Linked DNA regions of Homo sapiens: region 2 is linked to region 1. The links come from fine-mapping of genetic effects on gene expression. A gene starts in region 1. The other region holds a variant in brackets. All regions are shown on one strand. Distances are from middle to middle.

Region 1 (2,920 bases):
ACGGTCTAAAGAAGGGTAAATCTCGCCGTGTGCACAGTTACCCTTCGCATTTCTACAAGTGAAATGGGAGTAAAAATGAGCATTCAAAGCTGTCAAAGGAAAAGCAGTCCAGCAGTTCGAAGGGATATTCTGTGATGGACCAACTGTATGGTACAGTGTGTAAATGAACTTCAGGTCTATCTAGCGCCACGGGGGAGCCACGCTTTCGCACCACTGAGCTCTGGGGATGGGGAGAGTAGTGCAGGTTGGGGCCCCGTTTAGGAAACTACGAAGGGCTCTGAGAGAGCGAATTGTTCAGCAGTTTCCGTGACAGAACAATGATCTATTTAAGAAGTAATGGGGCAAGCAAAGAAAGCAGAGCTCGGTCATCCGGAAAAAGAAAGAGGAGCCGGAAAGAAAAGTATCAAGGAATCTACTGTGAGAGAGCGAGCAAAAAGCAAAAAGCGATCACAAATCCAGAGCAAGTAAGAGCTCAGGGATGCCGGGCCCGGGGGTCTAGCCTTTCTGAAGGGAGAGGGCTCCCCAGGCACGGGGGCAGCGCGAGGCAGCGCCCGCATTCCGTCTGCTGCCTTATCTTCGCATTCTCCCTACCACCCCCACCTTCCCCCCGGGACTGGAATAACCTTCTTCGTGCTCTCCGGTGGCTGAGAAAGCAGCTTTCGCTCTTCTGTGGTAGCGTGGAGGTGAGGTACATCTACCTCCACCCTCCCGGCACCAGCTCACGGTCTGTTGGGGGGGTCCTCCTAACGTGTGAGGCTAGGGTGTGTGAATGAAAAAGAGGGAGGCGGAGGCCTCCTGGAGACCTTCGACCTCTCAAGACCAGGCAGGGGCGCCCTTCCGCAAGCTCCCAGCTCTAGCCGGTGCCTCTGGCCCCGCGCGCATTAGGTCGCTGCCAGAAAATTACCCGGGCAACGACACCGCCGGAGTCCCGGATGTGGTTGCTAGGGCAGCAGAGGGAGGGGCGTAGCCCGCCTCCCGGAGAAGGGCGGAGGGATCCTCGTGGGAGGTGCGCTGACACCACCGAGACGTGGCCGGGCAAGGCCGGATTGAGGGAGAGAGAGGCCGTCCAGGGCCAGGGACAACGCTACTTCCGGTCTCCTCACTTCCGGCTTCGCTGCTCTTGGTTCTGGTTCTGGAGGCTGGGTTGAGAGGTCGCCGGTCCGACTGTCCTCGGCGGTTGGTCAGTGTGAATTTGTGACAGCTGCAGTTGCTCCCCGCCCCCGAGCAGCCGAGGTGCGTGGGGGAAGGGGAAGAAGGAAAAGGTCCGGGTCGCGTTTCCGCTCAGTTTTTGCCAGGGTTGAGGCGATTCCAGAGAGCGGCGGAAAGGATAAGCCTCGACTTAGAAGCTACCGAGTTACCCTAAGAAAGGTGAGGGCGGAGCTGGCTCGCCTGGGAAAAGGCGGGGGAAAGATGGTTTGAGGTGGCTGGTGGGGCGGGCACGTTGCCTACGGGTTCACCGTTCCGAACTTTCACAGGGCACGCCTCTCCTTAGTCTGTGCCGTATCTGCCCAAGTGTTATGCCTTTGGTTTCTTCTGTCCTTCATTCCTTCTGTCCCTCTGAGTGTGCCCCCGAAACAGTCGAGTGAAGGTGTAGGACCGGCCCTTGCAGGGAGGCACTCTCTTGGCTTTGCATACATTGGGTGGGAAAAGGAGTTGCAGGATCCAGAATCCGGACCTTTCTTGACAAAGTGTCGGAGTGGGCCACCTTCAGGCTTGCTGTCCAACCCTCATTTCTCCCCTCTTCTCCCTGCATCCCCAGCTTCCTCTCTCCCGCAGTGGGAGGAAGGGAGATAGTGACAGTCCCTCTGAGAGATTCATCTGGCAGTGGTGCAGAGAGGAGTCTTGCCTGTGAAATGTCCCAAGCCTGACTAAGGAATGCTGGAGTTTTGGAAAGGGAGTTGTTCGATTGTCTTCTGCTCCGTTCCTGTTTGCCAAGTTACTACTGTTTACGTGTCTAGGAAAAGGAAATAATTTTTTAAAAACAGTTTTTAGATGCTAGACGTTTTTCCCTTTTACTTTATTTTGTTATTACTTCCTTTGTTTTGTTCTTACCTTCCTCTTGAGCCCTTTGATTTCAAAAAGTTTACACTTTATACTTCCTGCAGATCCTTTGGCCACTCTTAGGATTTCTGTCCCCCGCCCCTACCCTGTTTTCTCCTAAAGTATAAAATTCATCTAACTACATTATTATTTGATAAGGAAAAGCCGGAAGAGATCCAGAACTTCGCATAAACTTTTGCTTTCATACTTTCACCTGTAAGGGTGTGTTCATGTTTGCCATTTAATTAACTTAATTGGCATAGAAATGTGCACCAGAAATGGTTACCTTAAGTCAGCCGTCTGTTAAGGCTTCAGGAATTGGCCTTTTCTTTTTTCTTTTTTTTTTTTTTTTTTTGAGACAGAGTCTCACTCTGTCGCCCAGGCTGGAGTGCATTGGCACGATCTCGGCTCACCGCAACGTCCACCTCCCAGGCTCAAGCTTTTCTCCTGTCTCAGCCTTCTGAGTAGCTGGGTTTACAGGTAGGCGCCACTACCGCCTAGCTAATTTTTGTATTTTTAGTAGAGACGGGGTTTCACCGTGTTGGCCAGGCTGGTCTCAAACTCCTGACCTCAAATGATCCTCCCTCCTCGGCCTCCCAAAGTGTTGGGATTACAGGCGTGAGCCACCGCGCCCGGCCGAATTGGCCATTTCATTGCTGTTCTCTCAGAGCGGCTACAGATTACTATATTTTACTGCTGCCTTAATTCTGCTTTTCTTTCGTTTGTCCTGTGGTGTTTTTTGTTTTGTTTTCCTTGCTTAGCATGACCCACGTCTTCTCCCAACTACCAAGTCTAACACACTTTTATCTGAGAAAAGAGAAAAGATTTCTAATGTATTTTGTGGATTAAATCCCTGCCTCAGTTACTTTAGTTTCTTTCC
Region 2 (2,920 bases), 70 kb after region 1:
AAAGAAATACAAGAAATTGTTGGAACACTGTTCCTCCAACTCCTACCCCCACCAGTCACATGTTGTAACTTATTTATCTCCTTTTCCCAAGAGATTGGAATCACTGTTAGGTCAGAGATAGTGTGTATACACAGCACAAGTTTTGGTTCATAGTAGTTGCTCAATAAAAGAATGAATTCTAGTAAATAGACTTAAAAGTTGACATCTTTTCTCCTTCAGCCATCCTACCCTAGGGTTTTCATAGCATGTGATTACAGTTTGTCTCCATTCTATATAGGAATGCAATATAATGTTTCCACGTTACTCACACATAAAAAATGTAGTAGCTCGGTCAATGGCAATAATGATTTGATGGGGGCTTTTTCAGAGAGCCAGTTTTGACCAAATATGTATGTTGATCCCTTTTAGAGGTATGGCAAATGGTTTTCAAGGATTGTTTAACCCATACAAATCTAGATTCATTTTAATACTGTTTGCTTTTCAGCTATAGGCTATACTTTTAATACTATTACTACAAATTAAAATTTTAAGTATATTTTTAATATACACATACATTAAATTAATTCTGGATTGAGAGTCCTGTTGAAAATACAATTCATAATGAAAGGTTGAAGGCTTATCTGTCTTAATTATAATCTGAGAGTGTGCCCTTATTTATAAACAAAAGCTATTAGTAATATGTTTTTTTTTATTTCTTGGAGGAATTTTGTTGAAAATACAATTCATAATGAAAGGTTGAAGGCTTATCTGTCTTAAATTATAATCTGAGAGTGTGTCGTTATTTATAAACAAAAGCTATTAGGAATATGTCGTTTTTAAATTTTTTGAAGGAATTATTTTGAATGTAGATACATATAAATATTTCCACAGTGATAGTATGTGAATGAATTCAGTATTTCTTTGATGCAAGTTGGTACATGATTCAAGCTTTTGAACTACTTAGAATCTAGACTAAGTGGGTGAGGCCAAGAGGGTAGGCAGTGAACCACCAAAAGGTACTTGTAAGTTCTTGTTAAATATTGTTGAATGAATGGGAGAGAGGGAGAAAAGAAGATTGAAATTGTGTGTCTGTGGCAGGCAGGTGTGTGTGTGTATGGTGGTAAATGGAAAAAAATCAATAAAAATGTTAGATTTACTCTCTTGATTAGATGGAATAAGATACAGGAGGATATTGTGATCATAAAGTGAGTTATTAAACTTATTTAAAGTGAGAATCTAGAAGTGTTGCTTCCGAAGTGATGACAAGGTCTAAGAGTGGCAATTTGAGTTTAGGTTGCCTGAGTGGAATATGGGGTATGAAAGATGAAAGGCATTAGAAATGAAGATGTTAATGAAATCTGAGACTAAGGTGTAGATTGGGTTATACTAAGTCTAAAATGTCTTTTATCTGCCCTGACACTTTTTTGGCATGTTGTCCAACTACAGATTCCCAAACCTGATCCAGATTACCAATTTTACGCATTTCTGCAAGTATACGGAGGGAAAATAAAATCACATACCTTTACATATCATTATTACTATCCCCTGTCATTCTGCATCAGCATAGGTAGGCAGGCTCATGGAACAGATTTTAAGTGTTTTACAATTTATATTTTAAAATATAGCAACTTACTACCTACCATAACATTAGTGGACTGTATTTTTAATGATCGGTGAAAACTTTCAGCCTAGACAG[C/T]GAATATATCAGCTTGGAAGGAATTGCTAACTGAACATCTATAATCATTTCCTGAAAATGTGCCCACCAACATGCAAAAGGTTAGAAACACCCAGTTTAATGGTGAGAGTTAGGGATAAAGCAGAAGCCCTAGATGTGCCAAAGTCTTCAATAAATATTTGAAATTGACTGGAAAGAAGGTAGATGACAATGTTGAGGTGGGGACGAGGGCAGTGAGGAAGGTGACACACAGGAAACGGGGGGGTTGGGTAGGGGCAGAGTTGCACAAGAATGGAAAGCAGTTCTCTACAACAGTTCCTCAAAATAGACTAAGGATCGCCTGCATCAGAATCACCTGATTTCCTTGTTTTGAAATTCGGATTTCTGGGCTTCACATTCCAACTCAGTGAGAATCACCACACAGCTAAGAGCAATCTGCATTTTTAACAGGATCCTCAGGTGATTCCTACTGAAATTAAGGTTTGAGAACTGGTTGTTTAGAAGTACCAATAGAGAGTTTAGAAAATGCTGACCCTGCCTTCTAACAATAGAATATTGATAAGTAGAATGTTGGAAGATAATCAGTTTTATAAAACTCAAGATAATTGTGGAGAAGCAGAGAGGCCACTTAAGGGGGGTTAATAGTGTTACAGAACTGGGGATGTGGAGGCTGTTGTAATAATAGCTTTGCTTCTGGCAGATACTTTTTATAGACAGCTAACTGTTAAACTAACAAAGGAGATTTTAAATTAACAGAATTCATCAAACATTTAACATAAGTGTTTTAGTTTGTTTCTTTAAAAAATTTATTATGTAGATGCTTTGGAAGGTTTTGTCCCTTTTGAAGCATGAGATGTTACTGAGAAAATTTCTTGCCAAATGAAGTAATAGACACTCTGCTAGATGTCAAGAATACAAGTGGTGAACAAGATAGATAAGCTTCCTGATCTTAGCATATGGTCTTCGGAATGGGAAGAGAGGATATAGACAAATTAATTTTAATACCATGTGAAAAATGTTGTGCTAGGCCAAGTATAGCATGGTCTGAGTACTGGTGGGAGCATGGAAAGATTACCTGAGTGATTACTATATAAGCTGAGGTCTGAAGGATGACCTAGCCAGATAAAGGGTGAAAAATATTCTCATCAGAAGCAACTGTAACAACCCGAAGGAAGTGTGAGACCATAGAACTGGAAATTCATGTTGTTGGAATGGAGAATGTGAGGGCAGGTGTGTGAGAAATGAGGCTAGAGAGATAAGTAGATA

Which allele goes with the higher level. Positions count from the first base shown, and alleles are read on the strand shown. Sizes are in standard deviations (SD) of each study's normalised expression.
As copies of C replace T in region 2, the expression in cerebellum of the gene that starts at base 1,096 in region 1 goes down (large effect, 2.0 SD a copy in GTEx).

The links.
Region 2: its variant is fine-mapped to the expression of ARFIP1 in cerebellum (GTEx, PIP above 0.99). The same link has a PIP of 0.9 or more in thyroid.

What each region holds. Positions count from the first base shown.
Region 1 is chr4:152,778,859-152,781,778 of GRCh38, forward strand. It overlaps ARFIP1 (ARF interacting protein 1), which reads left to right and starts at 1,096. Exons shown (of 9, transcript NM_001025595.3): 1 at 1,096-1,368. It overlaps TIGD4 (tigger transposable element derived 4), which reads right to left and starts at 872. Exons shown (of 2, transcript NM_145720.4): 1 at 624-872. RefSeq lists enhancers at 314-523, 974-1,133, 1,324-1,373.
Region 2 is chr4:152,848,594-152,851,513 of GRCh38, forward strand. All of the region lies in intron 2 of ARFIP1 (ARF interacting protein 1), which reads left to right. Among named protein-coding and RNA genes, the nearest start is that of ARFIP1, 70 kb to the left of the region's middle. RefSeq lists enhancers at 1,824-2,118, 2,005-2,663. The variant C/T (reference allele first, on the strand shown) is at 1,676.